2 separate regions of the Homo sapiens genome follow, and region 1 is linked to region 2. Evidence: fine-mapped expression QTL. A gene starts in region 2. The other region holds a variant in brackets. All regions are shown on one strand. Distances are from middle to middle. Region 1 overlaps NADK (NAD kinase). Region 2 holds the start of NADK (NAD kinase).

What was found. PIP is the estimated chance that this variant, and not a neighbour inherited with it, causes the effect.
Region 1: its variant is fine-mapped to the expression of NADK in whole blood (INTERVAL, PIP above 0.99).

What each region holds. Positions count from the first base shown.
Region 1 is chr1:1,750,547-1,766,487 of GRCh38, reverse strand. It overlaps NADK (NAD kinase), which reads left to right. Exons shown (of 12, transcript NM_023018.5): 2 at 1,042-1,260; 3 at 4,453-4,536; 4 at 9,178-9,307; 5 at 9,880-9,985; 6 at 10,145-10,230; 7 at 11,012-11,114; 8 at 11,790-11,944; 9 at 12,105-12,204; 10 at 12,280-12,437; 11 at 12,839-12,921; 12 at 13,428-15,256. The coding sequence starts at 1,082. The coding sequence ends at 13,584. It overlaps LOC112268218 (a long non-coding RNA gene), which reads right to left. Exons shown (of 2, transcript XR_002958243.2): 2 at 14,746-15,941. Among named protein-coding and RNA genes, the nearest start is that of NADK, 20 kb to the left of the region's middle. RefSeq lists enhancers at 5,537-6,494, 12,835-13,364. The variant T/C (reference allele first, on the strand shown) is at 9,735.
Region 2 is chr1:1,771,564-1,787,504 of GRCh38, reverse strand. It overlaps NADK (NAD kinase), which reads left to right and starts at 9,035. Exons shown (of 12, transcript NM_023018.5): 1 at 9,035-9,216. GNB1 (G protein subunit beta 1) reads left to right here. Exons shown (of 12, transcript NM_002074.5): 11 at 68-183; 12 at 452-2,219. The coding sequence ends at 174. RefSeq lists enhancers at 4,351-4,520, 6,830-6,929, 6,940-7,009, 7,020-7,079, 7,090-7,259 and 1 more and silencers at 4,441-4,735, 8,320-9,519.

The sequences.
Region 1 (15,941 bases), 21 kb after region 2:
TTAATGTGTTGTATTGTTTACGAGAAAAGAGCCTGTCTTTTTTTTTTTTTTTTTTTTTTTTTTTTTTTTTTTTTTTTGAGACGGAGTTTCTTTCGTTCTTGTTGCCCAGGCTGGAGTGCAGTGGCACAATCTCAGCTCACCACAACCTCCGCTTCCCGGGTTCAAGCGATTCTCCTGCCTCAACCTCCCAAGTAGCTGGGATTACAGACATGCGCAACCACGCCCAGCTAATTTTGTAATTTTAATAGAGATGGGGGTTTCTCCATGTTGGTCAGGCTGGTCTCAAACTCCCGACCTCAGGTGAGCCACCGCACCTGGCCAGAGTCTTTCTTTTCTTAAGACAGGGTCTCGCTCATGGGCTACCATGCCCGGCTAATTTTTTTTTTGCTAGAGAAGAGTTCTTTGTTGCCCAGAGTGGTCTTGAACCCCTGGCCTCAACTGATCCTTTCTCTCCAGCCTCCCAAAGTGCTGGGATTACAGGCATGAGCCACCACACCTGGCCACACAGTGTGACTTTCTATTTTGTTCTTTTTTGAAACAATTTTTTTTGTTAATATTATTTTACAGAAAAAATTTTGAGATGAAGTTTCACTCTAGTCACCCAGGCTGGAGTGCAATGGCATGATCTCGACTTACTGCAGCCTCCACCTCCTGGGTTCAAGCGATTCTCCTGCCTCAGTCTACCGAGTAGCTAGGACTACAGGCGCCCACCACAGCTAATTTTTGTATTTTTAGTAGAGACGGGATTTCACCATATTGGTCAGGCGAGGCTGGTTTCGAACTCCTGGCCTCAAGTGATCTGCCCGCCTCTACCTCCCAAAGTGCTGGGATGACAGGCGTGAGCCACGGCACCCAGCCAAAAACCTAGAGTAGTTCTTAAATATCTTTGCAATGGAAACAGTCTGTTTTCAAAGTACTTTGGTAAATTGGACTTCAGCCATTTTTTCCCCTTGATGAAATGGAACATATGTATGTGTAAATTATTATTGTTTCATACATATTTATTTACTTTATTTACATTATTTATTTTATTAAATTAAGGCATCAGTGTTTTTCTGACCGAAGTTCTCATTTCCTGACAATGGAAATGGAACAAGAAAAAATGACCATGAATAAGGAATTGAGTCCAGACGCGGCTGCTTACTGCTGCTCGGCCTGCCACGGCGATGAGACCTGGAGTTACAACCACCCCATCCGGGGCCGGGCCAAGTCTCGCAGCCTGTCTGCCTCGCCCGCCCTGGGGAGCACCAAGGAGTTCAGGTACAACTGGGAGGGATGGTTCCTCTTTTTTTTCTCGTCTGATTTCATAATATTCTTTCTTAAAACGATTATGAAGAATTCTCCTGAGTAGTCTGCGTCGATGCATCCGGAAGGTGAGGCTGGGTCCTTGCCCAGGTGAAGCTGTGCCCTTGAAGGGGGATCCTGGCCCATGGACACCTGCCTGGCGCACGTTCCCAGGTGCCAGCACAGGCACAGGGTGCCACCGTGTTTCTCTATCTGTCTGTATCAGCACAGAACCATCTAACTGGCGCCTACGCTGACCCTTGATGTTAGACTGAAGCGCACTTGGAGAGGAAACTTTTTTTTGAGACTGAGTCTCGCTCTGTCCCCCAAGCTGGAGTGCAGTGGCGCAATCTTGGCTCACTGCAACCTCCGCCTCCCAGGTTCAAGTGATTCTCCTGCCTCATCCTCCCAAGAAGCTGGGATTACAGGCGTGCACCACCATGCCCGGCTAATTTTTGTATTTTTGTAGAGACGGGGTTTCACCATGTTGGCCAGGCTGGTCTTGAACCCCTGACGTCAGGTGATCTGCCCGTCTCAGCCTCCCAAAGTGCTGGGATTACCGGTGCAAGCCACTGTGCCTGGCCTGGAAACATTTGCTCTACAGAAGTCACTGGGGTGTGAGGGGACATCCCTCTTGGCTCTGCTTGTTTTGAGAGGCGAAGGCTGGGGGGTTCTGCACTGTGAGCAGGGCTGGTGGAGGCAGAGTTATGAGCGTGGCCTTGGGCGGGCCCAGCCCTCTCACATGTTGGGCAAGTGGCTCCCTCCTGTGCCAAGAGTGCCCACAGCGCTCACCCTTGCACAATGCTGCTTGGGCAACAGCGCCCCGGGCTTTGCATGACGGTGGCCGCACAAGCACAGCTGTGATGGTGCCTGGGGATGGTGCTCTCGGTTCTGGTGATGGTAAATGTGGTGAGTTTTAGGTGGAAGCTTGCCAGAGCCGGCGCTGCCTAACAAGGATCACGACTATCAAATGCAAGGGGGGCTTTTTGGTGAAAAGTAGTCTTAGAAAGCATGTTGTCTTACCCAGTGAGATGGGAGAGCCTGTAGCGCCTCTGACGTGGTGGCAGCCGTGGAGAAACAGGCTACTCCCACGTTTTCTGTCTACAGAGTCGCTGCCTGAGCCAGGAGGCTACGAGCGCTGGTGGCTGCCTTCATCCCGCAGGCACCACGTCACCACTCAGCCTTTCTCAGATGCCTCGTTGCCTCGTTGTCAGTGGGGGTCGTTGTCCTGTACCTCCAGGCCACCCCAGCGCAGTGACTGCGTGAACAGAATTGCTTTGGGGTTTTATTTTTTTTTCCTGTGGGTTCTTTGGCATAATGCACCATTTCTGTTGCATTCTGAACCTGATGACAGCAGCCCTGGGTCAGAGGTCGCCTCCATAGTGAGTGACAGGCGCCTTCAGGGTGAGGTGGGGGAGGAGGTAGCCAAATACGCCCAAGCATAGCCTGTCCTTGGGAAGGAAACATTAAATCCCAACACCCACTTCGAGAAACATTGTTTTCCGCAATAATCTTTTCAGTTCGTAAGTAAGTAAAATTCTTTTGTAATGTACTTCGTTTTCTTCTTCTTTTTTTTTTTTTTTTTGAGATGGAGTCTTGCTCTGTCGCCCAGGCTGGAGTGCAGTGGTGTGATCTAGGCTCACTGCAAGCTCTGCCTCCCGAGTTCAAGTGATTCTCCTGCCTCAGCCTCCTGAGTAGCTGGGATTACAGGCATATGCCACCACGCCTGTCTAATTTTTGTATTTTTAGTAGAGATGGGATTTCACCATGTTGGCCAGGCTGGTCTCGAACACCTGACTTGAGGTGATCCGCCCACCTCAGCCTCCCAAAGTGCTGGGATTACAGGCGTGAGCCACAACGCCCGGCTAATTTTTTGTATTTTTGTGTAGAGACAGGGTTTCACCGTGTTAGCCAGGATGGTCTCAATCTCCTGCCTCGTGATCCGCCTGCCTTGGCCTCCCAAAGTGCTGGGATTACAGGCGTGAGTCACTGCACCCGGCCTGTACTTACCAATTTTTAAAAGGCTGAGGTAAACAAGTCCGTGACCACTGATGGCCACGCCTGTGTCACCTGTGGAGCAGCCCTCAGGGCACCACGGCTCTCCTGGGGTTGTCTGGCCCTGCGAGGCAGCGGAAGGCCGTTCTTCTGCATTGGGACTTGAGGATTTTGTTGGGCCGTTGCCTGGCCAGCTGTGTGCAAGTTTTCTGAGTTTGTGAAGGGACTGGGAGGCTCCCGGGCACCTAGGACGAGGGCAGCCTCAGTGCTGGACCCTGAGGAGCACAGCGGTCCTGACAGCATTCTCCCCAGGACGCGTGCGGCTGCCACAGCCCCTGGCTGGGTGATTTAACTGTGACCTGGCCATGTTTAAATCACTAGGAAAGTTGTTGAGCCGTTCATCTGGCGTCTTTTATTCATTCATTCATTCATTCATTCATTCATTCATTTTGAGACAGAGTTTCACTTTTTTCAGCCAGGCTGGAGTACAGTGGCTCGATCTCGGCTCACTGCAACCACCACCTCCTGGGTTCAAGCAGTTCTCTTGCCTCAGCCTCCTGAGTAGCTCGGACTGCAGGCACACGCCACCAGGCCTGGCTAATTTTTCTTTTTTTAGTAAGGATGGGGGTTTCACCATGTTGGCCAGGCTGGTCTCAAACTCCTGACCTCACGTGATCCACCCACCTCAGCCTCCTGAAGTGCTGAGATTACAAGTGTGAGCCACTGCGCCCGGCCTACGTCTTTTTTATTGACATGAGTTCAGAGTGAACATTTGTGCTAGAATTTTAATCTAGACGATTTAGAGATGAGATGTTGTCTCAGGTTTTGAGTCCCAAATGCAGATCTAGAGAGGGGTCCTGGAGACACTGAGGAATTCTGATCCCAGGCTGGCCCTGGCCCTGGCATTTTCCTTGTTTGGGCTGAAGCTCTCCCCGGCTTGGGTCATGATCTGAGCGGCGCGTGGGCATGCGTGCTCCTCACAGGTGCCGCTCCAGTGCAGCCATGGACCTGGGCAGAACCTTCCAAGGGCTATTGTGTGGCTGCTGGGCAGATGGAGTTGGCATCTTTCAAATTGCATGTATGCCTTACCGTGTAACCTCCTCTGTATCTGTGTCTGTCACTGCATGTCTGGTTTCAGGCCCTGGTGGCTCTGACACTGCCCTCTCCCCACAGGAGGACACGCTCTCTTCATGGGCCATGCCCGGTGACCACTTTTGGACCAAAGGCCTGTGTGCTGCAGAACCCCCAGACCATCATGTGAGTGCTGGGGCCCCAGGACGGGGGGTTCTTGGAAGGGAGAGAACCCCTAGACCATCATGTGAGTGCCGGGGGCCATGGGATGGGGGAGTCCTCGGGATGTGTGTGGAGTTGTGGGATCGCTGTGTTGAGGAAGATTCTAGCACTTCATGTGAGAAGTACATGTTTAGGTCATTTAAACAAAAAGCCACATGGGCGTCCTCCCTGAACCCCCTGAGTGCAGGCATCCGAGCGGGGGCTCCCCAGCTGTGGCTTTTCCAGTGGCTTTGAGAAAGTGGACGGCAGGCGAGCCGGGGCCTGGAGACCGGGTCACAGCCCGTGGGTGTGGCGGCTTCCACATGAGATCCTCAGGGCTGCCTTTTTGTTTCTTTAAGAGTGAGTGAGAATTCTGGGGTGGGTTGCGTTTGCTATTTGATGGTTCAGTTTGTCAACACATTCTGCCTGGAGGCCCGTCATAGTGTCATGGGAAAAACGCAACAGTGATCGATCTGATATCTGTGTTTTATGTGTAAAGAATTATAATCCAGGCTGGGCGCAGTGGCTCACACCTGCAGTCCCAGCACTGTGGGAGTCCGAAGCAGGCAGATCACTTGGGCCCAGGAGTTTGAGACCAGCCCGGGCAACATGGTGAAAGCCCATCCCTACAAAAAACACAAAAATTGGTCAGCTGCGGTGGCTCACACCTGTAATCCCAGCACTTTGGGAGGCCAAGGGGGGCGGATCACGAGGTCAGGAGTTCAAGACCAGCCTGGCCAATATGGTGAAACCCCATCTCTACTAAAAGTACAAAAATTAGCCAAGCATGGTGGCGCGTGCCTATAATCCCAGCTACTTGGGAGGCTGAGACAGAGAACTGCTTGAACCCGGGAGGCAGATGTTGCAGTAAGCCGAAGATCGCACCATTGCACTCCAGCCTGGGCGACAGAGCAAGACTCAGACTCAGAAAAATACAAAAATTAGCAGGCATCGTTGCACACACCTGTAGTCCCAGTTGCCAAGGAGGCTGGGGCGGGAGGATCACCTGAACCTGGGAGGTTGAGATTGCAGGGAGCTGTGATTATCAAAGTGCATTCCGCCTGGGCGACAGAGCAAGACTGTCTCCAGAGAAAAAAGTGAGCTCCCAGCCAGCCCTGAGAGTCGTATTCTGCACCTGGTAGACATCCTCATTGCCTCTTCCCCAGAGAAGCCTTTGCTTCTGGGACTGGTGCCTCAGCTCTCAGGCCTCTGTGCAGAACGGGCTCTCTTCCTCTGTGCAGAACGGGCTCTCTTCAGGGCCTCCTCCTTCACGGAGTCATGGATGCTTCACTTTCTGCAAGGGAGGACCATGCGGAAGGGCCGAGTGTTCCAGCGCGCAGGCTGCTGGGGACTGTTGACCAGAAAGCGCAATGCGGCCGTGTGATACGGGGGCGGCCACTGCATGGCCCTTTGCTGACAGGCACCGGTGCCATGGAGGCTGGGGGCGCACAGCAGGGACGGAGGCCCCAGCCCTGGGCTGTCACCGAAGTTCAGGTCCCAGGAGCCACGGGGGAGTCATCCGAGGAGCTGCTCTGCAAAGTGTGGGCCCCGCGGCAGCGTGCGTCCCAGGCAGGACGGGGGTTGGCCTTGCTGCTCCAGACGCTGACGGAGCCCCTTAGGATGGAAGTGACTCGCACTTGTGCTTTTGAGGCCCAGCCCTTTCAGTGCCACTGGTTCCCGGAGTGTCTGTGACCTGTCACTGCTGCCAAATGCCTGAGGCGGGGGGCCCGACCCCTGTTTGCTTTCCCTCATCCAGTCCATCTGCAGATTCTGTCACTTTGATCCCAAAATATCCAAGCAGCTCCCCTGCACTATTGCCCGGCTGCCCTCCGCTGTGTGGACTCCTGACCACTCGCCGCGGCCTCACCATCCCTTCCCTGCACAGCAGCCACGTGGGTGACCCAGAGTGCTCCACTGCCCTCCCGGCCCCGCCGTGGCTCTGTCCCGCCATCCTGTGCTTGCTGTGTCCCTGGCACCCCACCGGGCCTCTCCCCCGCTGCCTGGTGCCCTCCCTGCACTTCCTGGTCCTGGCAGAGCCACTCCTTTGTCACTCGCATCTCAGCTGCTGCCTTCACCAGCCGTCAGTCACTCGGGCCAGGGCGGGGTCACCGGACAGGTGCATGTTCTGCCTCAGCCCTCAGACCAGGGCGTACTCAGTGGTCCCCGAGCTGCCCGAGGCCAGACAGCCCCGCAGGAGGAAGCGGTGGGTTTGTGGGGCAGCCTTGAGGGGCATGCAGCTTTCTCGGCACCCCCATGGGAGCACGCCCCCTCTGGGCTCTGTGTCTCTGGGATCATAACCTCCCGCTTCCCATCCCCGCTGTGGAGGGGCAGGGCTTCCCATGCATCTGAACTTCCGTCTTCCCTGATAGTCCAGAGCAAGACCCTGTGGGGGCGCCTGGTGAGGAGGGCACCCGCTTCCTGTTTTGTTGTCCAGGGAATTGGTGGGCCTGTGTTGTGGAGGTGCGTGAGTGCCCGTGTGTCACAGTGTGCGTGGCCACCCATGTGTGAGACAGTCTCAGTAGGAGCTGGCCAGGCGGGCCAGGCTGTGGCCATGCTGGCTTCACGCCACCCCCTGCCCTCTCCGTGCAGTACCCACAGCCGTGTGTGCCTGCAAGCTTCACGCCACCCCCTGCCCTCTCCGTGCAGTACCCACAGCCGTGCGTGCCTGCAAGGGCTGGTGTCCTGCTTTGCAGGTGACCCAGGAAGAGGTCGAGGCGCTGGTTTGTGGTCACACACAGCGGTGGGTGCCTGGGCCGGTGTACGACGCCGCTGCTGGTGGCTCTGGCTGGGCTCAGCTGAGCCTCAGGGCTGGAATGGGTGTAGGCCAGGCCACTGGGTCAGTGGTGACTGTTGGCGGGGAGAGCAGGGGGAGCCGTGTGCAGGGCGGGGGCTTTGCTGGCTGACCAGGCCGGAGGACCGTGAGCCACCTGCACGCCCTTGGGCCGGAGCCAAGCAGAGTGACGCAGCGGGCTAGGAGGCAGGGAACGCCCTTCCACCTGACTGTGGCCTGAGGGTGCCTTCCCTGGGGCCCAGCCGGTTCCGCGGGCCAGAGCGGTGGCTGGCGCAGTGCTGGGGCGAGGCTGGAGGCTGGGTACTTGGCCAGGTCTGAGGCCACGGGAACAGAGGGCTTGGTCCCACCCGGCTCAGTTAGGAGCAGGGAGCTGAAGTGTGGCCTCTTTGCTGCTGAACTGAGGACTTTTTTTCAGAAGGGATTAGGCAGGAGGACCATGTGACCAATGAGGAAACTGTTTTGTTTTGTTTGATTTTTATAAGTGTAGGAAGCTCTTTTGACTTAGTTGCTTTTACAACAACTTTACCAAGTCTCATCACAATTGTGTTTTGCTTTGAGTTTTGAGTATGAAGAGCTTAGGCTTCTAGTGTGGGCGCACAGTCAGGACCATACCGATGGGGCGGCCGCGTGTTCGCCAAGCGTGGCCTGGATGCTGTGGACACACTGGCCGGCTCCCAGCAGGCAGGGGCTACCTCGCGAGCCACATGTGTGACCCGGCAGGTGCTGAGCTCATAGGGGATGGCATGAGTGACCCCACGCCTCCCAGTAATGCCTGCACAGGGTGAGTGCTGACCAGCTTCCGAAGGTCACAAGCGATGGGCTAAGGTCTGTGGCCCTGTGGCTGCCATCGGCGTCTGTGTTGTGGTTCTGGGGGTGTTAGTGGGACGGTCACACTCCTGGGGAAGTCACTGCTGGGAAGAGGCATGGCAGGCAGCAGCTTTCTCGATTGGGCAACTTGGAACTAGCTGGCTGGCGCGGTGGTATAAGAACTTGTCCTTTGGGGCTGAGGATAGGCGGTGAGCGCTGACGACGGTGGCCAGCCCCGCTGCGCCCTCCCTTGGCTTCTGGGAACAGGAGCAGGCTCCGTGGTGTGTGTTCCCGGTTCTGGGCTGGGATGTTTTCTGTGACTAACGTGGTAATGGGAATCCCACCGGGGTGGGCCCTGCCTGTGGAGAAACACCGGGCACAGTGGTCGGGGTCAGAGCCAGCAAAGCGCGGGTGGCTGTGTCAGGGCTGCCACGGACTTTTAAACCTGTGATTTTTACTGTGAGAGTGAGTGAGGTTAAAGTCCGTTCATGCAGGGAGGTAGTGAGCTGTGTGCAGGGGGGGAAGCGGGTCCTTGAGGGGTCCTGGGCTCCCGTGGGGCCAGAAACTGTGTGCAGAGGATCCTAGGGACAGAGTCACCATGTCAACTGGTTTGGGTTTTCGTGGGGGCCTGAGGAGGGCATCAAGCAAAGAGTGGCCCAGCCATGGGCTTTCGTGGTCATTTCTGCCCCACCAGCGTCACTGAGGAGCCAGGCAGGCAAGTGGCCGGGGGCTGGGAAGGGCTGTGGTGCGTGCACTTGGGTCAGCGTGGTGCCCGGGTGGGGGTTGTGGGCCTGAGCCTGCGTGTGATGGGCCAAGCAGGTGAGAGGTGGTCACTCCGGACCCTACTGACCCCTGACCCTGTCTCTGTGGCGCGACCCTAGGCCCTGTGAGCCCGTGGCCACCGAGCACGTTTCCCTGGGAGGTGAAAACACCTTTTTAAAGATTTTTTTTTTTATTTTCTAAGTCATACACCTTTTCCGCAAGAGGGAGATCGCAGCTGGTGTGAACTCTTTTCTCCTCCCCTAAAGGCACATTCAGGACCCCGCGAGCCAGCGGCTGACGTGGAACAAGTCCCCAAAGAGCGTCCTTGTCATCAAGAAGATGAGAGATGCCAGCCTACTGCAGCCGTTCAAGGAGCTCTGCACGCACCTCATGGAGGCACGCGGGGCAGGGGGGAAGGGGGCCTGGGGTGCACATGGAGTTGGGGGGGCCTCCATCCACATCACCGCCCCGTGAGACCATGGGAACCACCTCAAGTGCTGGGCAACGGCTGCTTGTCTGGAACTGGGGACTGAGTGGGGATCTGCCGGGTGTCTGGGTTTGTGTGTGCCGCCATGGCAAGCACCAGACTGGGTGACCAACAATGAGCTGGTGGGCTCGTGGCCCTGGAGGCCGGGAAGTCCGAGATCAAGGGGCCACATCTGACGTGGGCCTTCCTGCTGTGTCTTCTCTTCAGAAGAGCAGGCGTGGGGGTTGCGGCGCCCAGGAAAGCCACTCCTGAAATAACAGCCTTAGTCAATTCCTGAGAGGGAGCCCCCTCCGCCCAGTCATCTCTTAAAGGTCCTGCTTCCTCCTGGCGCGTTGG[T/C]GATGAAGTTTCAGCGTGAGCGTGGGGGGGCGGGCATGCAGGCCACGATGCCAGGTCTCTGACCACAGCGCCCGTGAGTCGGGAACCTCCCTGCAGGAGGGTGGGGTCTGCAGGTGGAATGAGCAGGTTGGCACTTTGCTTCCAGGAGAACATGATCGTGTATGTGGAAAAGAAAGTGCTAGAAGACCCTGCCATCGCCAGCGATGAAAGCTTTGGGGCAGTGAAGAAGAAATTCTGTACCTTTCGAGAAGGTGGGCTGTCAGCAGCTCTGTCCTTGGTTTCTCCAGCACAGTTCCCCGCCCCATTGGAAGCTTCTGGCACTGTTGCCCTTGTCATTGGTGTCTGCGCACTGCGCCACAGAGGGGCCACTGTGTGACAGCCTCTTCTTGGTTTTGCTTTGTGTTTCCTAGATTATGATGACATTTCCAATCAGATAGACTTCATCATCTGCCTGGGGGGAGACGGGACGCTGCTGTACGCTTCCTCGCTTTTCCAGGTGAAGCGCTGACATTTCCAGACCCACACCAGGTTCTAGTCTAGGTGCTGCGTAACGAGGGGCTCACAAGCATGGCTTCCATTGCTTTTCACCCCTTTATACGAGAGCAGTCACCTAGAGCGGCCAGCACTGAGGCCCATGGTGGCAGCCCGGTGGGGTGCGACGGTGGGGCCAGGGGCAGTGTGGACACAGTGCTACGGCTGGGGGTGGCCAGCGCCCGCCTGGGACAGCAGGGAGTGGCGCAGGGTGGTGGGTCCTGGGAAACGACCTCGCCTACTGGCCCATCCCCTCTGGGCCTCCCTTGAGCTCCTCTTCCTGGTTTCTCAGCAGCACAGCTCTCCCCTGGGGCTGTAGGGCCACGCTGTGTGGGGGACCCTGGCTCTGCCCTTGGCCCACTGCATGTTGGTGACACCGGAAATGCCCGCAGCCCGCCCTGCTTTTCTCCCCATCTCCCCATTAGCACCTGTGGGGCGCGAGGCTCCGACCCCAAGGCTGCCTCCCACCCGCCCTCGCCAGCTCCCCCAGCCCTCCGTGCCCAGGGGGCCGCTCAGCCCTGCCACCTTTGTTCCTCACCAGCTCCCCACACCAACCTTGGCCCTGGTGGCCCGGCCCACCCTGGCCTGCGACGTCCCCCTCCGCTTGTCCACATGGCCAGTCCCTCCTGCAGAGGGTCGGGGTGCTGTCCCCACAGAGCTGGGTCCCTCCTGAGGTGCTGCTGGAAAGCTGGGTGGTGCGGGGGTGCACGGCGTGGGCACTGAGTGACCTCTCCGTCGGCTCACAGGGCAGCGTCCCTCCGGTCATGGCCTTCCACCTGGGCTCCCTGGGCTTCCTGACCCCATTCAGCTTTGAGAACTTTCAGTCCCAAGTTACTCAGGTGATAGAGGGTGAGTTGGAATGTTCTGGAGCCCACAGGAGCTCTGATCATGGCGCTGCTGTCTCGCTTGCTTGCGGGGGGTTTATTTTCATTTAATGATGCATGGAGCAACATTTAAAGGTTTCAAGATTCAGGGATTTCTAAATCTTGAGTGGTTCAAACCTTTTACTGACACTGAGAAGTTTCAGCAGATCACAGGTTGAAGCTGCCATGTGTGTTGGGCAGAAGTGAGCTGATTCTCACTCTCAGAAGGCACAGAAGTGTCGGCCGGGCGCGGTGGCTCACGCCTGTCATCCCAGCACTGTGGGAGGTCGAGGCGGGCGGATCACGAGGTCAAGAGATGAGACCATCCTGGCCAACACGGTGAAACCCCGTCTCTACTAAAAATACAAAAATTAGCTGGGCGTGGTGGTGCGCACCCGTAGTTCCAGCTACTTGGGAGGCTGAGGCAGGAGAATCACTTGAACCTGGGAGGCAGAGGTTGCAGTGAGCCAAGATCACACCACTGCATTCCAGCCTGGGTGACAGAGTGAGACTCCATCTCAAAATAAAAAGAAAAAGGCACAGAAGTGTGTCAACTTGGGAGAAGAAAGAGCCCTCTGACTCCCACTGGCCTCCCTGGGGTGGGGCCCCTGACCCCACTGACTTCCCTGATGCATGCCCTCTGACTCCTGCTGGACCTCAGGGAACGCAGCTGTTGTTCTCCGGAGTCGGCTGAAGGTCAGGGTGGTGAAGGAGCTCCGGGGGAAGAAGACGGCCGTGCACAATGGGCTGGGTGAGAACGGCTCGCAGGCTGCAGGCCTGGACATGGATGTCGGGAAGCAGGCCATGCAGTACCAGGTGAGTGGAGGCGCCTCGGCCTCGGTGAGGGGCCCAGGGTGGGGCGACTTCGGTCCCAGGGATGAGGACCTTCCGGAGAGCCCGGCTGGGTGAGACGGAGGGTGTCTGCGAGCCGTGCGGCATCCCCCGCCCTGAGTGTGCAATGCTGTCGCCCCTCCAGGTCCTGAATGAGGTGGTGATTGACAGAGGCCCCTCCTCCTACCTGTCCAATGTGGATGTCTACCTGGACGGACACCTCATCACCACGGTGCAGGGCGACGGTAAGGCCCGCAGCACTGTCCTGGGGCCCTGAGCGTCCCTCGGGCGGGAGTGACGCCTGCGCCTGTCCCTGTCAGGAGTGATCGTGTCCACCCCGACGGGCAGCACGGCGTATGCGGCCGCGGCCGGGGCCTCCATGATCCACCCCAACGTGCCGGCCATCATGATCACGCCCATCTGCCCCCACTCGCTGTCCTTCCGGCCCATCGTGGTCCCCGCAGGGGTCGAGCTGAAGGTCAGAGCCAACGACACTCCTTTTCCGGTTTGTGAGTCATTTGACCCCGTGCAACACAAAGCCGGGACCTAGCACCCCGCTCTGCCATGCTGGCTCCAGCCTCAGACGCGGCCTCGTCATCCTAGGGCCATCCTGTGCCCCCTCAGATGCAAGCCTTCCCTTGCTGGTGCCCGAGTTCTGTCCATCAAGGTGCCCAGGGCCCGGGTCTGAGGGGCTTTCTGCCATTGTTGGTCTCTGGCGGTGCTGAGCTGGGCCGGTGCCTGTAGGACGTGCACTGCACCGTCCGCAAGGCAGGGTCAGAGCTGCCCAACCTTCGACCTCTGGCGAGCACTCAGGGGTGGGTGCCTAGAAGCGTCCTCCCCACAGCTGGGGGCCCACACCTCTCCCTGCTTGACCCTCAGATCATGCTGTCACCTGAAGCAAGGAACACAGCATGGGTGTCCTTTGATGGACGGAAGAGACAAGAGATCCGCCATGGAGACAGGTGTGGGCTGCATGCCGGGCTGGGCGCTGCCTGCCAACCTCCTCCCCGGGCCAGGCAGCGCCTGCCCTCTTGCGGTTGGCCTGTAGACACAGCTTGTCCCCTAGGGCACCACAGGGCCTGAGTCCCTGGGTCTTGCAGCATCACAGTCGGGGCACCCGTCCTGGGGGCAGCGGGTCGCATACGGTGGCACATGCAGGCCTGGCCCCAGCAGAGGCCTGAGGGTGTCCCCCCTGGCACTGCTGCCCACCCCCACCCACCTCCTGGGACCTCACCCCTGAGGGCCCTGGGGCAGAGTTTGTCAGTTCCCTGCACCGTCCCCTCCAGGACCTGGGATGGCTCTGTCCCAGCACCCATGGGGCACTGCTCAAGCCTGCCTCGGGGAGGGGCTGCCCGGCCCCACAGGAAAAGAGTCCCGGCCATTCCCAGGGAGGGAGGGAGGAAGGGTTCTTGGCCGGGGGTGGGCCTTTCTGGAAGCCCTGGCTCAGGCTGCTGCTCTCCCGTCCCAGCATCAGCATCACTACCTCATGCTACCCGCTCCCCTCCATCTGTGTGCGGGACCCCGTGAGCGACTGGTTTGAGAGCCTCGCCCAGTGCCTGCATTGGAACGTCCGGAAGAAGCAAGCCCACTTCGAGGAGGAGGAGGAGGAGGAGGAGGAGGGCTAGGTCAAGCCCCTATCCAGGCCCGAATCCTTCCGCTGCCCTCCAAGCGCCCTCTGGGGACAGACCAATCTGCGTGTGTCTGTGACCGCCTGTCTCAGTGGCACGGCCACTTCCTTTCTGTAGCTGGGTTAGAGCCTGGGTCTGCCTTTTGTCCAGATCAGCTGTTTTTTTAAAATGTCTGACTTTTTTTGCATTTCTAAAGAAGCGTGAGAAATGGGCTGGGAGTGCTTCTGTCCTGCTGACACCCCGCGGTGGGTCCCTGGAGCGCGGCCTCCAGCTGCCGCAATTTCCATGCCAGGATATTTTTCCGCAAATCAGTCGGTTGAAATTCAGAGGAGTCAGAATGACTCGACCTGTCCTTCAATGTTGATAATAAATGTCTCAGCCAAAAACCTTCCTTGAGCTGCCATGCTTTTCCCCTTGACCTGCACCTCTTCCCCTAAAACTTCTGCAGGGAAGCCCCTGGCGGAGGCGCCATTGAAAGCATGGTCTTGCCAGTGGCTGGCAAGGCGGTTTTGTTCTGCTCAGTTTCTGGAGAGGGTTGGATGCGTCCCCTGCCATCCAGCCCTCCCCGCTTGAGGCCAGCACTGAGTCTGGGACACTCAGCGGGAAGGGGGCTGGCATCGCCAGCGACCCACACATTCCTCACGTAGCTTCTGCTCCCAGGAAGGTAGTTTAAATCCTGTATATACTTTTTAGAGACTCTTTTAAACTTTCTGAAGTGCTGATGTACATACTTTCTCGTACACACTTTTGTGAAGATTTCAAGGGGAAGGGAGTCGTCTGCCATTCAATGTTTACATTTATGTTCTGCAAGACGCTGTCCTCAGGGACCATTAGGGGACCATTCTGTTCAGTGCGATCCTGATGGTCCGGGAGATGAGGGTTTCCGGGGCTAGTGATCGTGATCCCTTTTATTTGCAACTGTAATGAGAATTTTTCACACTAACACAGCGAGGGACTCAACACGCTGATTCTCCTCCTGCCTCTCCCGTGAGTCTCCAGCCTGCCCAGCACCGGCAGCTGTGGAGCACGTGGATGCTGCCTACCCCGGCGCCCGCGTCTTCCACGGGCACAGGTGTGTGGAGGCCGTGGTCGGACCCTGGTGTCCTGGTTACTGCTGCCCGGGTGTCTTTTTTTTGAGTAACTGCTCTCTGAGTTTTGCACACGAAGTTGCCCTCATCTGCTGGAGATCGATAAGGAAGGCACAAGACGTTCTCCTCTGCCCGTGAGGAGCTTCCCGCAGCCGCCTGGCCCAGCCTGGGCACGTTCTCCGAGGCATGTGTCTCCCTGCTCACCCTCGTCTGGGCACCTCAGCATCTGTGGACTTGAGCGTCCAAAAACCCTGAGTGTGATTCTGGGCAGCCGGCCTGGCTTGAAGTCCGCCATGACCCTGGGCACAGGGGAAGCCCAGCCGTGGGCTTAGGAGAGAGGGACCAGCGCCCAGCGTTAGGGCTGGAAGACGGCAGTGTTCAGAATTCCAGCCGCTCATCTGAACACAGAAGGTGTGAACTGACCTCTAAAGCAGCGTGAGATGGGAATGATCTAGAAAACTTTGGATTTTTGAAGTAAATTTTAATGTTTCATATTAATTTCTTGAAAATGTATTAAATGTCATTGAAAGCCTTATTACGCTTTTCAGATCCTTTCAATAAACAAGACTTGTAGAAAATAAGCTGGGTTAATAACAGCTTTCTTCTGACGCCGTGGAACCAACATAGAGGGGTCGGGCAGGGTCACCCCCATTAAATCCTAGCCCCAAAATGCCCATCCACCGAGTGTGGGGCCGGCAGGGCATCCTCCCCAAGGGGCTGGGGGTGCCGCTGCCTCTTCCGGGCAAGGGGGCAGTGCCCTGGCGGGGGTAGGGGTAGACAGAAGGGACTCAAACCCGAGGGGTGGTGTCGACTCGGGCAGGCTGTGTTGCTCCCGGAAGAGCCACTGAGACCAGGGGGAATTGAGTCCCTGCATTCCCGGGGCCAGCAGGGCTGGAAGAGCCCCTCCATCCGGGCTGCCTAACAGGGGCAGCCACAAGCCAGGTGAGGACCCGCTGGCCCCTGGGCCCAGCCTGGGCACCGATATCGGCCTCCCTCCCTCCACTGACGTGGTCCTGCGCCCCGCAACCCCCCCACCCCGCACCGTCCCTGTTGTCCTAACAAGGCCCAGATGAATGTGGCTCAGGGCTTTGCCGGCAGCCAGTCTGCACTACACGCGTGCAAGTCCAGGAGAGACCAAAACGACCACCCTGTGGACACCTGCGCCTCCAGCACCCTGCCCCGTTTTGGGGACGTGAAACCCTGGGCTGTGGGCCCCGCCCTACCGACCTGGAGCGCCTCTGCCTCCCCGGCCTGGAAGAGGCTGTG
Region 2 (15,941 bases):
AACATGGCACACAGGTGAGATCGATGCCTCTGGGCTTTGGTGTGATTCTGCTGTTGTTTGCTCCCAGGTGTCTTGGCTGGGCATGACAACCGCGTCAGCTGCCTGGGCGTGACTGACGATGGCATGGCTGTGGCGACAGGGTCCTGGGATAGCTTCCTCAAGATCTGGAACTAACGCCAGTAGGTAATGCAGCAGCCCAAATGCCCTTCTCTGAGGAGAACTGTGCGTGTTTCTCATAGAACATTTGAAGTTGTCATTAACGGTTTCTAGATAAATGTTGATGTAGCATTGATTTGGAATTGTGTTGTGGGAAACGTTTACAGAAAGCTGAAGTCACGTGCCCTCAGCTGCAGACACTCATGCAGTGATGGGAAGAGCAGTGACCTGGCTGTGCGTCTGCACTTAGATTCTCTGCCTCTTTTCACATTTCTTTAAACTCTGTTTAAAACAGCATGTGGATGCCATGGAGACTGGAAGACCATTCCAACTTGGACGCGTTACCATGAGAGCATATCCTATCCAACCGTACTAACGTGGACACCCTACACCTCCCCTCAGAACTTCAAAAGGGCAAGATCTTTTTTCCTTCACTTATTGCTGAAACCAAGAGCACAATTCCCATTGAGAGAAAGATCTCTGTGCTGTAAACTAAAACAAATTGTGCATTCCTTCCGGGGCCATCGTCTTTGTTTTCTTTTTTGTCTTGAATGAATTTTAAAAGGAAATATATAATAAAAATGTTAACCAGAAGGTAAACTTGAGTGTAATTGTCAGACAGACACACTTTTCCACCAGTGTATTTGAATTTTAGACCAGTGACCCTGTTTTGTGGCATTCATGCAAAACATGCTGAGGGCTTTGTTCATCTGGTCATCGTGTCCAAATTTCAGTCATGTTTGTAGCAAGATTTTGGAAGCATTCATATTTCCTTTTTAAAATGTATTCCTTTGTGTTCAACAGTTAATCAAAACCAGAGAGTCTAGGGCAGCCTCTCTGATGTTGTCAATGATGTAAATTCAGTCCCTGGTTTTTAATTTTCTGTCTGATGTCACAGATCATTGTTGCACACAAACGTGGCATAGAAAAGAACATGTTCAGAAGCCATGGGGCCAAGCACATGCGGGGACGGTCTCAAATGCGTGATCAGAGAATCCTTCACCTTTGCTGAAAAGTGAGCTCAGATCCAGCACCATGTTCCTCCTGACCCATCCTGTCTATCTTCTCAGTTGAGTTTTTAATCTCACTTTGGGTTTCCTTGTGAAGTTGGAGGGAAGTTTATAATAGCCTAACACTACCCCACCCCCAACTAGGAGGAACCTCTGTTTTCAAGAGAGATGCCTGTCCTGTGCTTGGATAGTCAGTCAATTATTTGTGTATGAAACAATGTACAAATCAATGTTTTGAAAATAATGATCTCAGACTTTCTAAGTTAAATTTTAAAAATTTTGATTGTTTGCCATATTGGGTGGGTTTACTCTTAGAATCGCATGCTGTAGAAATGCTCAAAAGTGCATATGGGACTCAGTCCTTAGGTGTTCTTTTTCTTTTAAGAAATAACCTCTTACAGTTGTAACCATTGCGGCTCTGTCCACTTCTCGTTGCTGCTCTGTGGCACATATCGGAAGCAGTACAGCGCGCGGCTCTACACGCTTGGGTAGCGGGATAAGTCACTGTTTTCTTTATTTCTTTAAAAAAAAAAAAGTTCTGTTGCAAACGACTGCTGTTGGATTCTGAGGGTGGGGAGGGAGAGAGAGGGAGGGAGAGGGAGTGAAGAGCCTGCCCTCCTATATGGATTCTTCAGGGCCCTCCACATCTGAGGTGGCTCATTCCCATCACACACAGATTGTCCTGGTGTTCATTTCAAGGCCAGTGTTCAGCAGCAGCGTTTGGAAAGCAGGTTCTGTGGGACCCCCCGCCCCGCCCCCCGCACTCCTTCATAGCAGCAGTAGTGGCTTCTCCATCCTGTTTTCTGCAACATTCTATACAAAACTGTGCTGTGACCTTGCGGTAGGCCTGGATCTGGCAAAGAGAATACAAATGAAACCCCTTCTTTCTCTTTCCGTCCAACAACTCTGTAGAGCTCTCTGCACCCTTACCCCTTTCCACCTTTTGTATTTAATTTTAAAGTCAGTGTACTGCAAGGAAGCTGGATGCAAGATAGATACTATATTAAACTGTACTGTTATTTAAGATGTAATAAAGCAGTTTGACATGAGGGACTTTGGTGTGGTGATTATTTACGGGTCCACTTCCAGTTTGCAACGCGCCCGCTTCCCTAAGCTGTCCCTGTTGCTGTGAGGTCTGACGGGCCTGCTCATGCCAGGCGGTGCCATGGCCGCCACCACGTCACAGAATCCATGAGTGGCGCATTGGCTCCTCGGAGGGGTTCCTGGGAAGCTCCACCTCACAGGCCAGCAGAGCAGGGAGGTCCACCTGCCATCGCCCAGACCCCTCCCCAGGCATAGGCCTTGCCCACAGCACCGTGGGAGTCTCCACAGGCGGCTGCCTTGCCTTTCTCCTCTGCCATTTCCCTCCCTTAGAATGTCTGAGGATGTTACTCCAGAGACTAGCTTTCCTTGGGACTGAACTGAGTGTTCCTCTTGGTCTGAATATAAAGAACTGCATCTAGTAAGAAAAAAATGAGCACTGGCCATGGTAGTGTGGAAAACCATGGCTGTGTGTGTCCCAAATAGCCGCTCCTAGGCTCCAGAACCATCCACTTCCCTGCTTTCCAAACTGGTGATTTTTTAAAATCTTAAATAGGCAATACAAAATTAGCTGGGCATGGTGGCACACGCCTGTAATCACAGCTACTCTGGAGGCTGAGGCAGGAGAATGGCATGAACCCGGGAAGGCGGAGTTTGCAGTGAGCCAAGATCGCACCACTGCACTCCAGCCTGGGTGAGAGAGCAAGACTGCCTCTCAAAAAAAAAAAAAAAGTAATTTTTTAATTCCCATGGCTCCAGCAGCTGGAACTTTTTTTTTTTTTCTCCCTTGATGTGGAGTCTCGCTCTGTGGCCCAGGCTGGAGTGCAGTGGCGCTATCTCAGCTCACTGCAACTTCTGCCTTCTGGGTTCAAGTGATTCTCCTGCCTCAGCCTCCCAAGTAGCTGGGATTACAGGCACGTACCACGACGCCCCGCTAATTTTTTTTTTTTTTTTTTTTTGAGACGGAGTTTCGCTCTTTTTTGCCCAGGCTGGAGTGCAATGGTGCGATCTCAGCTCACTGCAACCTCCACCTCCCAGGTTCAAGCGATTCTCCTGCCTCAGCCTCCTAAGTAGCTGGGATTACAGGCGCCTGCTACCATGCCCAGCTAATTTTTTGTATTTTTAGTAGAGACAGGGTTTCACCATGTTTGCCAGGATGGTCTCGATCTCCTGACCTTGTGATCCACCCACATCAGCCTCCCAAAGTGCTGGGGTTACAGGTGTGAGCCACCGCGCCTGGCCCAGATGCCCGGCTAATTTGTTGTTGTTTTTTGAGATGGAGTCTCGCTCTTGCCCAGGCTGGAGTGCAGTGGCGCGATCTCGGCTCACTGCAAGCTCTGCCTCCTGGGTTCACGCCATTCTCCTGGCTCAACCTTCCGAGTAGCTGGGTCTACAGGTGCCCACCACCACACCCGGCTAATTTTTGTATTTTTAGTAGAGACGGGGTTTCACCATCTTAGCCAGGATGGTCTCCATCTCCTGACCTTGTCATCCGCCCTCCTCAGCCTCCCAAAGTGCTGGGATTACAGGCCGAGCCACCGCACCCAGCCAAACTTTTTCCTAGTAAGTGAAGAAGGCTCTCAGCAGAAAGTACCTGTAGGCCCCCTCCTCCCCTGGGCACCAGAGAACCCAGCAGCCCCTCCTCTAGGCTGGCAGTCCCTGGCCGGAGAGGCTCCCATAGGGCACTTGGGATTCACGGAGCAGGGCCCAGCCGCCCTGCTCCAGGCAAGGTGCTGGGTGTGTTTCTGACGCCACCAAGGGTGCCCATCTGCCAGCACTGCAAGTGACACTATGGCGTTGTCTCCCTGGTGGGGTGACCTGGTGCTGTTTTAGGCTGCTGAAGTGGGTGTGATTGGCAGGCTGAACGGGGTGGGCTCGCCTGGCTTCGTCATCCCCCACTTTTCCCTGAAATAAATCAGTTCTTCATAGACATGCAAGTTCTTCACAAGCCCTAACCCTGCCAGCTGTCTTACAAAAACCCCACTTAAAATCACTAGAGAGTTGAACTTGTCTTGGAGGCGTCAAAAGAAAAAAAAAATTAAAAATTAAATGCAGAGAGTACCTGAGGCTCTTTCCTGGCTGGCAGTTCCTGGGAGGGAGGGGCTCCAGCAGCCGGGAGGCAGGGTGCCGGCCTGCAGTGGCCTATCTTGGTCCCTGCCCAGAGTAAATAAAGGCCGAGCATCTCAGCACGGCTGCCACACCCCCGACTCCACTTCCTCCCTTTGGGGATTCCTGTTGGCTTCTGTGTCCTAGCCTGGCACCCCGCAGACTGAGGGAGCTGGCATGTGGGACCTGGGACCCTCTGGTGCCCCTTCCCCTTGGCTTTGGCCTGGAAGAGCCAGAGCTGAGGGGGACCCCTCCCTGGGGCGGCCTGCCTGTCCCTTGGCGGGCATGGAGGCCACTGCCCCACTTTCTTAGCAAAACAGGAAATGAAAACGGGCGCCAACAACGTGCACTTGGACAGCGGCACTGACTAAGGCAGTGTGGAAAGAGGAGGATAATTCCACACTGGCTGAGTGAACTGCAATCATTTTCAAACTGTAGGCACAGAAATCTAGTTTGTAGATTGCATTAGCCTGGCCTATGCAGGAGCAGCGCCCTTTGTCGCCAGCAGCTCCGCGGTGTGGGGGCCCCTGGCGCGCTTCCTGTGTCCGGGTCACCTGGCTCCGCCCCGCTTGCGCGGGCGCACCTGTCGCAGGTGGACACAGGCAGTGGAGTGACCTGCAGCTCGCTCCGGCTGTGGGCTGTTCCTGCAGGGCCTCGGACCTCCTTTGACCAAGCGGCGCGGGGTCGCCCCTGTGCTCCATGTCCCAGGGATGGAGGTTCCCCACCTCAATTTTACTCTAGCACGTGGCACGCACGTCCACACTTGAGCAGGACAAGGTTTCCGTTCTGTCCCCTCCGTGTCACGCACCTAGCAGAGGCTGGCCCTCAGCAGGATGCGTGGGGAGGCGCGCTCTGCCCACGCGAAACGGGGACACTTCAGCGGCCTGGCGCGGCCCCCCGCTCCCCCCCGAGCCGGACCTGGGAGCCTGAGTGACTGGGGCCAATAGAAGGGCCGGCCGGGAACCGAGCGCTCCCGGGAAAGGCCGCCTCGGCCCCTCCCACTACTCTCTGGCCTCGCCCTGTCCCCTACCCCCACCCCCCAGCTCCCTTTCCTCGCTGGGTGACCTTGAGCAAGTTACTTGGCCTCTCTGTGCCTCTGGCCCCCGCGTGAAAAATGTGGACAATAAACGTACCAGGCTGTGGCCGGGCGCTGTGGCTCACGCCTGTAATCCCAGCACTTTGGGAGGCCGAGGTGGATGGATTACCTGAGATCAGGAGTTCAAGACCAGCCTGGCCAACATGATGAAACCCCGTCTCTGCTAAAAATACAAAAAATGAGCCGGGTTCAGTGGTGTGCGCCTGTAACTCCAGCTCTGGAGGCTGAGGCAGGAGAATGGCTTGAACCCGGGAGGCGGAGCTTGCAGTGAGCTGAGATCATGCCACTACACTCCAGCCTGAGCTACAGAGCGAGACTTCGTCTTATACTAGGCTGCTTGGTAAGGATCTTGTGAGGACACAGGGAGTCCCAGTCCTGCCAGGTGGTTACTGTTGATGATCCCCGCCCACTCTAGGCTCTCACCACTTCAGGGTCCTGGTCCTTGCTGCTGCCTCTGCCTGAGAGAGAAACACTTGTCCCTGGGTACCTTGGTCAAAACTGTACCCCAACCCCTGCCTGCCCCCACCAATTCTGCTTCTTGCCCGTCTGCCCCACTAGAAGGTGAACACCTGATGGACTTTGGTTTCCACTGTTGAATCCTCAGTATGCCCTGCACATGGCTGGCATCCTGGGAAAGAGGTTGCCCCTCGCCCCAAACCAGGCCAAACAGAAGACTGTCATGTGAGCAGATCCAGACACTGGCCCCTGCAGACGCCCCTATCCTGGCTTTCAGCCTGGGCAGGGCCTGTGCCGGGTGCTGGCTGGAGGCTGGATGAGATGACCAGATAGCCTGCCATACTGATGTCCTTCACTGGGAGCCTCAGTCCTTCCCAGTCATCCTTTCCCCAGGCTCCAGGCCACTTACCCTTGTGGGTTCTGGGCAGACTTCGTTCACCCAGTTTACTGGAGCCAGGCCACCTGAAGCCAACTTCCCTCTCTCCTCAGCCTCCCCAGGAGCAACCTGTACCCCAGTGCACCCCATCCTGCTCCATCCCTCATGGCCTCCGTTCCCCCTTCTCCCTCCACCCTCCCCATCCCTGCTGACCCCCAGAAGAGGATGGGTCCAGGTTTTGGGGGTTCTGAAGTAAACAACATGGGAGCCATCCTTAAAGAATACAAAAAACAATGCGAAATTATGTGAAGAGTCCACTGCCACCTTGAGCAATGGCAGCCCTGGGGCTGAGGAAGGTCAGGGCAGGGGATGCCACCCACTGCTGCCCCATCCCTGGGGCCTGGTCAGGCAGGAGGGGGCCTTTCCTGACCCCCAATCCCTTGAAGGCAGAGCCTCTTCCTGTGCACCATCTGGCAGAAGCCCCCATGATAGCCCTGGACCCTTCTGTTCCTGCTGCGGGAACATCTCTTCCCTTTGGTCTCAGCCCAAGCAAAGCTGCCTCTTGGACCATTCTGGGTGCCCTAAGGAGCCTTCCCAGCTTTGGTCTTAGTTATTGCTGGCCAGGCCTGGGGTGAGGTGTGGGTGTGAGATCTTGGCCCCTGAATCTTCAAGGTCATATCCGGGGCCTGCCCTGAGAAATTGCACAACCTGTCAGCTGAAGGAAACCACAGCCCTGGTTTTGTTTTCTCATCTCTGAAACAGGGAAGCTCTCCTGCAGGCAGTGCCCAGGCCCAGGGTAGACAAAGGGTTTTCATGCCACAGACGGGGCAGCTGCTGGAGCTCCCTACACAGCGGGACACGCGAAGGGCACCTGCTGTGTGACCTGGGGCCCACGACAGTCACTGGTTGCCTCTGCAGAAGCAGTTGACTGCCTCCACTCTAGAAGATTCTACTGAGGCCTGGCTCAGTGCCTGGCTTGTGGGTGCGCCATCTAGATCAAGCATTATTATGCTAATGATCATATGCAAAAACTCAGCTCACGCATTATTATGTTAATGATCTTATCCGCCCCCTCTCCCCCCGCCAAAGAAAAAGAACTGGGCAGCTCAAGGCCGCTTCTGTGGGTGTGGCTGGTGGTCACTTTGAAACAGTTGGGTTTGCAAAATAACCCCGGGAGAAGTTACAGAGCTTAAGAAATCCCCCAAGTTCTCATGATCCTTGCTTCCCTTTCCAGTCACCCTTGGTGCCCTGTACTTCACTGTGGTCCTGAACTGAAGAGCTGTGTTTTTCAGGAAGACTTGGCCAGGCCGTGTTCCGTGTCTCTGGATTCAAGTCCCAGGAGTCCTGACCAGAGAGCAGGTATGCGGGTGTGGGGAAGGGCTGCAGAGGACTCAGGTCCACACCGACCCTGGGCCAGGTGATCACACAGAAAGTATAGACAGGGACTGAACCTCAGAAAACAATGGCTGGGCCAGGTGCAGTGGCTTACGCCTATAATCCTAGTACTTTGGGAGGCCGAGGCGGGTGAAGTTTGAGACCCAGCCTGGGCAAAATGGTAAAACCTCATCTCTACACACACACACACACACACACACAAATATATATATATATGAATGAAGTAGTCGAGTGTGGCGGGACCTACTTGTAGTCCCAACTACTAGGGAAGCTGAAGTGGAAGGATCGCTTGCACCTGAGAGGTCAAGGCTGCAGTGAGCCGTGAGCCCGCCACTGGACTCCGGCCTGGGGGACGAATGAGACACTATCTCAGAAAAACAAAACAATGTCTGGCACCTGGGGGACCAGCAGGTTAGAGCAGCTGGTCGTGCATTGCCAGTTTACCTGACAGTGACTCGAGAGCTGAGAACTGGGTATAGGGCACATTATTGGGATATTTGAGGCCTGAAGGCGCTGATGAGCAGCCACCAGTTCAGCAAGTGCGGGCTGGGTGGGACCCGCAGTTCCAACAAACACTACAAAGTCCGCTCCTGTGGCTTTGGCCTCCTCCCCCAACTCCCCGAGTCCTCCAGCCTGTGGGGTGCGCAAAACACGGCTCCCTGGTCCCCCTAGAGGTGCCCCAGGCCACCGGGTCCTCCCTCCACTGCCAGCCTTGGGATCCCAAGCGTAGACCTCTGAGGACGTTCGTGGGCGTGCAAGGCGCACCTGGCCGCTAGAGGTGGGCGTGAGGCCGATCGCGGTTCCCCCAGGCGCAGGGCCGCCCTCCCAGCCCCGACGGACAGCCCCGAGGGAGCGCAGCGCTGCCGCAGCTGCTCTAAGTTTCGGTTCCCAAATCCGGCTCGGCCCACACCGTGTCACAGCCCGGTAATTAGGGAAGCGGCGGCGGGCGGGGCCAGCTCTCGCGGGGCACCTGCACTCCCCTGAGCCGGCCCACGTGGTCCGGGAGGTCCCGCCCGCGGTGGCGGTGAGTTGGGGGCGGGACGCCGGGCTGGGATCACAATGTCGGGGGCGCCTAGGCGTAGACGTGGCGGGCGGACCCGGGGGCGCCCTCCGGACGCGGCAGGTGAGTGGGGACGGGAGCCGGGGGCCGCCCTCCTCGGGGCGCCGACCCCCGCCTACCCGAGTCGCGGACGCCCGCCCCTGTCCCCGCTGCCCGCCTCCACTCCCTGGTCACTGCTCTCCACCGCGATTCGCCCCTCTTCCCCACCGCCCGCCTCTTTCCCGCCACGCCCGCCGCCTCCCGCCCGCGCGGGGTGTCCCGGCGCCGGTGGGACCCGGCAGACGCGCGGGACGCCCCACGTGCGCGGCAGCGCGCATGCGTGGCGGGTGCGCCTGCGCAGTGGGCGGGCGCGGCGCATTGCTGCTCGGCGGCGCCGGCGCCGGGGTCCGGGCGGCCATGGGGCAACAGGCGGCCAGGGCGCCAAGGGCCAGGTAGCGACGGCTGGCGGCGGCGCGGCGGCGGGGCCTGCGGGCTCGGTCCGGCATGTAGACGCCCCCGCAGGCGCCCGCGGCAGCGAACGGTGAGTGAGCAGACCCGGCCTGCCGTCCGCCTGGGGTCGCCCGCTGCCTGGGGTCATCGCTGCCCGCGAGCGCGCGGCCAGGCGGGGAGACACCAGGCCGGCCCTGCCCATCTGGCCTGCTGAGGAGGCCGTGGAAGTGCTGACGGGCCACCGCTCCGTCCCGAATGGGGCACCAGCACGGCCCAGGGCGAGGCTCGGCCTTGGGGACGGGTCTGAGGGAGGCCGCTGTCCGGCCTGGCTCTCCCGGGCGGGGAAGGTGGGGCCGTCCAGCCCGGACCGCGCTTGTCAGTCGCCTCTGCTTGGGCGGCCAGGTCCTCGGTGTCCGGCCTTCCGTGGGTGGTTTCAGCAAGCAGGAGGGGTCTTTGACTCGTGAAAGCTTAGAGGGGCCCAAACCTAGTGGGAAAGTATGAATAAAAGATTCTATACAGCAGTATTGGCATGGAATTCTCTAAAAACACATCTCTGATTTAGTGCCCAGTACTTGCCAGAAAATTCCAATAGTCTATGGTGATGTTCCTACAGGCGGCTGCCATCCAGTAGGTCAGATGTCAGCACCGGCCTTGAGCTCTAGGTCGTCGTTTTTTTTCTTAATTGTGGGAACAGGGCGTGCCCAGCTCCGAAGGCCTGGTGGAGTTTTCCTTCCCAGGCCAAGGACCACCCCCACCCTCCCATCCCTCCTCCCCAAGCAATGAGATTCCTTTTGGCTTCGATTCCGAGTAACAAGTTATTTTTCCTTTCTTGTTTTGGAACACACTAAGTTTTACATTCAAAAGTTCATTATTCTTGGCTCTTGATGGGAATACATTTCAAAACTCTTCTCTTCTTGTGTTCCATGTCTCTCTGACAGCCTTAGTTGGCCTGAAACTGACATGTTTGCCTTAATAAGTTTTTTTTTCCTCCTGATGTCATCTTGTCTAAGAAGCTAGTTACTTTAACACCTTGTTAGATAATTCCCTTCAAGTACTTATTCCCCTGAACATTGTCCTCTCAAGCCTCTGGAAATTTCCTGTCCCCTTGGAACTTCTCTGTAAGGCCTGTTTGCTCTCAGCAGTGACTTCACTGGGACTTTTGCAGCCACTTTATGGTGTTAGCACGCTGATTCCAAGCTACTTGAGGAATCACAGGTGCCACCGCAGTACCCAACAAAATAGCTTCATCATTTGGAGGTGTCCTCTCGAGATGTTTCTGTGTGTATATGTGTGTGTATGTTAGAAACAGGGCCTCACTCTGTCCTCCAGGCGTGTTTATGGTGGCATGATTATAGCTCACTGTAACCTCAAATTCCTGGGCTCAATTGATCCTCCCACCTCAGCCTCCTGAGTAGCTGGGATTACAGGCCTGCACCACCACACCTAGCTGATTTATAAAATTTTTTGTAGAGATAGAGTCTCACTGTGTTGTCCAGGCTAGTCTCAACCTCCTGGCCTCAAGAGATCCTCCTGCCTCCACTTCCCAAAGTGCTGATCTTACAGACGTAAGCCACTTTGACCAGTCTTTTTTTTTTTTTTTTTTTTTTAAGACAGAGTCTAGCTCTGTTGCCCAGGCTGGAGTGCAGTGGCACAATCTCGGCTCACTGCAACCTCCACCTCCCGGGTTCAAGTGATTTTCCTGCCTCAGCCTCCTGAGTAGCTGGGATTACAGGCGCCCACCACCACGCTCAGCTAATTTTTGTATTTTTAGTAGAGACGGGTTTCACTGTGTTGGCCAGGCTTGTCTCGAACTCCTGACCTCGTGATCAGCCCACCTTGGCCTCCCAAAGTGCTGGGATTACAGGTGTGAGCCACCACAGCTTGCCTCACTTGGACCAGTCTTTTTGTTTGTTTGTTTCATTTGAACTTGGAGGTGGGTTTATGTTGTTTCAGTTGGCAGCCTGCTGTTTGGTTCCAAAACAGCATTTTCTTCTTGAAACAACTGCTGTCAGCAGTTAGATTTCCAGGCTAGCACAAAAACCTGTTTGACTCATAAATCCTTGTAGTGAGGGTGTCCCAGAAAGTTGGCCAAGTCAAGAGCAGTTCTTGTGGAGTGGAGGCGGTGAACAAATAGGGGGAAAGTGGCGCTCGTGATGAAAACGGAAAACAATAGTTGATTTTATTGAGCTTCACGCTTGAGGAAATGTAGGTCTCACTTGGAAAATTAAGAGGCAGGTGGGTGTTTGCGGGACTCGACGGCCTTGCATCTGGATTACCTCCAGTCTGCAGGTGTGGTAGGATGACAGCAAGAGGGAGTGTTGAGCACACAAGCCCAGCACTTGGGGGGAGGCTGTGTCATGGCAGGAAGGTACAGGGCCTCCTCCAGCAGCTCCACTTTCTAGTCCGTATATACCTGTTGACAGTCACCGCCCAGCTTCAGCCGTTCTGGACAAGTGGGTGTCAGTAATGCTTTAGCTTGTAACCCCAGGATTTCATTTCTACTCTCTGTGCTGGTGGCTTATCATTTGCAATCTTTCCTGGCCCACAATTGCAAAGGTCCTAGCATTCATGCATGGGAATGGGGAAGTGAATAAAATGTGTGTGTGTGCTTCAGACAGATGGTGAAAAGTGTTCAGAGAAAAAGCGAAATTGAGGCAGATGGGATGTGAGGATGCCACGCACACTTTGTGCAACTGAAGAGGGAGGTGATGCCTGGCCTTCCCATTCAGAACTGCCCAGACCCCTGTTTTCTTCATCTGCCCCTAAGTAGGTGGAGCCACATCTAAAGAAAGCCCCCTTCAGACCTGTAATCTGCTTAGGTTTAATGAGGTCACAGGGTGAAGCCCTGTGGTCACATGGCTGTAGCACTTTCCAGAAAGTCTTTCTCAGTTTGTATACTGCCAGTGTGCATGCCAGCACTGGGCATTATTTACCGGGGTGAGATGAGATGGGTAATTTAGTGGGCAGTAAGTTTTTTCCCACTCAGGGTTGAGGTTGAATGTTTCCCCATTTCTGTCACTAAATAAATTTTCCTTTTTCATTTAGTCTTGCAACAAATATTGATTGAGTTCTTACATGGGAACGAACTCGTGTATTATGTTTGTATTTGTGTGTGTGTGACTTTTGTTCATGTTCTTTGCACATTTATTTATTGGCATCTTAATGTTTTCCTTGCTACTTTGTATAAGTTCGTTATGAATATTTTCTTATTGTGCTCTAGTATTTTTTTCTAATAAAACTTCCTAATACAGAGGATTTTTTTTTTTTCTTTGAGGCGGAGTCTCACTCTGTCCCCCAGGCTGGAGGGCAGTGGCGTGATCTCAGCTCACTGCAACCTCTGCCGCCTGGGTTCAAGCGATTCTCCTGCCTCGGCCTCCTGAGTAGCTGGGATGACAGGCGCCTGCCACCGCGCCCAGCTAATTTTTTTTGTATTTTTAGTAGAGACGGAGTTTCACCATCTTGGCCAGGCTGGTGTTGAACTCCTGATGTCGTGATCTGCCCGCCTCGGCCTCCCAAAATGCTGGGATTACAGTCGTGAGCCACCATGCCCGCCCTACAAAGGTTTTTTAAAATTAGATTCATGCTATGAGGAATTTGAATGCACTTTGGTGCAGCTAGCATTGTGTGTCCTTTTAAAGCAGTTAATATATCAAACAAATGAATTAAGTGTCAGTCCTGACTCACCCTTGTCAAAAAATACAGTGGTGACCGCGCACGGTGGCCACGCCTGCAATCCCAGCACTGTGGGAGGCCGAGGCACAATGGTGGCCGCGCGCAGTGGCCACGCCCGTAATCCCAGCACTGTGGGAGGCCGAGGCATAATGGTGGCCGTGCGCGGTGGCGACGCCTGCAATCCCAGCACTTTGGGAGGCCAAGGCGGGCGGATCATCTGAGGTTGAGAGTTTGAGACCAGCCTGACCAACATGGAGAAACCCCTCCATGTTGGAGAATTAAGAGGCAGGTCTCCACTAAAAATACAAAATTAGCTGGGCGTGGTGGCGCACACCTGTAGTCCCAGCTACTTGGGAAGCTGAGGCAGGAGAATTGCTTGAACCTGGGAGGCAGAGTTTGCGGTGAGCCGAGATCGCGCCACTGCACTCCAGCCTGGACAACATCAGCGAAGCTCCATCTCAAAAAAACAAAAAATACACTGGTTGTGGTATTGGAGATACTTGTTAAATATATATATATGTGTGTGTGTGTGTGTATATATATACACACACACACATACATAGGTGAAGATAATTGTTTAAAGTTGGTTTTAATATTTAATATTATTTTATAAATTAGTTTACTGCTTAGTCATCAAATTGATCTTCGCAAATAAATATGAACAGAGCTTCTAGGCTGGGTGCAGTGGCTCATGCCTGTAATCCCAATGCTTTGGGAGGTCAACACAGGAGGGCCACCAGAGCCCAGGAGTTCAAGGTCAGCCCGTTCAAGGTAGCGAGACCCTGTCTCTACAAAAAATTTAAAAATTAGCTGGACATAGTGGCTCATGCCTGTAGTCTCAGCTACATGGGAGGATCCCTTAAGCCTGGGAGATTGAGGCTGCAGTAAGCTGTAATTGCACCACTGCACTCCAGCTTAGGTGACAGAGCAAGACCCTACCTCTCAGTCTCTCAATATCTCTATTTCTCTCTCTCTCTCACACACACACACACACACACACACACACACACACACACACACACACACACACAAAATAGAGCTTCTAGGTAATGTAGCAGTAATAATACATTTTTTTTAACATTTTGTGATTTTGATTTGTTTATTTTTTATTAATGTTTTTGTAGAGACGGGGTCTTGCTGTGTTGCCCAGGCTGGTCTCCAATTCCTGGCTTCAGGTGATTCCCCTGCTTCGGCCTCCCAAAGTGCTGGGATTACAAGTGTGAGCCACTGTGTCTGACCTTTATTAACTGTTTATTTTGAAATAATTGGCTGGGTGCGGTGGCTCACACCTGTAATCCCAGCACTTTGGGAGGCCGAGGCGGGCGGATCACCTGAGGTCAGGAGTTTGAGGACCAACCTGGTCAACATGGTGAAACCCCATCTCTACTTAAAATACAAAAATTAGCCGGGTGTGGCGGCGGGCACCTGTAATCCCAGCTACTCAGGAGGCTGAGGCAGGAGAATTGCTTGAACCCTGGAGGCAGATGTTGCAGTGAGCCAAGATTGCGCCATTGCACTCCAACATGGGGGACAAGAGCGAGACTTCGTCTGGGGAAAAAAAAAATAATCATAGACTAATTCATAGGAAGTTGTAAAAATAGTACAGAGAGACCCCTGTGCCCTTCACCAGCTCCCTCTGTGTTAACATCTTTTTTTTTTTTTTTTTGAGATGGAGTTTGGCTCTTGTTGCCCAGGCTGGAGTGCAATGGCGTGATCTCAGCTCACCGCAACCTCCCCCTCCCAGGTTCAAGTGATTCTCCTGCCTCAGCCTCCCGAGTGGCTGGGATTACAGGCATGCGCCACCACGCCGGGCTGATTTTTTGTATTTTTAGTAGAAACGCGGTTTCTGCATGTTGGTCAGGCTGGTCTCAAACTCCTGACCTCAGGTGATCCGCCCGCCTTGGCCTCCGAAAGTGCTGGGATTACAGGCATGAGCCACCATGCCCGGCCCTTGTGTTAACATCTTACACCTCCATACACCTCCATAGTACAATATCAAAACCAGGGAATTGAAATACTGCTAACTAAACTATAGACCTTATTCAGGTTTCACCAGTTTTACATGTGTGTATGGCTCTATGCAGTGTTACCTCTTAAATTAATTATATAACCACTAGCAAGACACAGAACTGGTCTTGAACTCCTGGACTCAAGCGATCCTCCCGCCTCGGCCTCCCAAAGTGCTGGGATTACAGGCACAAGCCACCACACCCAACTGTATTTTAATTTTCTTAACAGTGTTTTGGCTAGGCACAGTGGCTCATGCCTGTAATCCAAGCACATTATGATGCTGAGGCAGAGAGATTGCTTGAGCCCAGGAGTTCGAGGTCAGCCTGGGCAACATGGCAAAACCTCATCTCTACAAAAAAATACAAAAATTAGTCAGGCATGGTGGTGCATGCTTGTAGTCCCTGGTACTCAGGAGGCTGAGGTGGGAAGATTGTCTGAGCACAGTAGGTAGAGGCTACAGTGAACCATGATTACATCACTGTACTCCAGCCTGGGGACAGAGTAAGACCCTGCCTAAAACAGGAAAAAAAAAAAAAATTCAGGGTTCCATTAAGTATAAAAGATTTTAAACACCACTAAGACTTTTTCCAGCTGGGTGAGGTGGCTCACGCCTGTAATCCCAACACTTTGGAAGGCCAAGGTGGGAGGATCACTTGAGACCAGGAGTTTGAAACCAGCCTGTGCAACATAGGGAGACCCCATCTCCACCAAAAAAAAAAAAAAATTTCCAGGTGTGGTGGTGCATGCCTGTAATCCCAGCTACTTGGGAGGCTGAAGTGGGAGGATTGCTTGAGCCTGGAAGGTTGAGGCTGCAGTGAGCTGAGATCACACCACTGTACTCCAGCCTGGGCAACAGTGGGAGATCCTGTCTCACAAAAAGACAAAAAAAAAAAAATTTCCAGTGCTTTCTTCTAAAAAGTTTCATAGTTTTAGTCCTCACATTTAGGTCTATAATCCATTCTGAGTTAATATTTGTATGTAGTATGAGGAAGTGGTTGGGCTTCGTTCTTTTAGACGTGGCTGTCCAGTTGTTCAGAACTATTAGGTGAAAAGATGATCCTCCTCATGTTGAATCACCTCAGCACCTGTCAAAAATTCATGGACTGCATGTGTGTGAGGGTCTGTGGCGTCTAC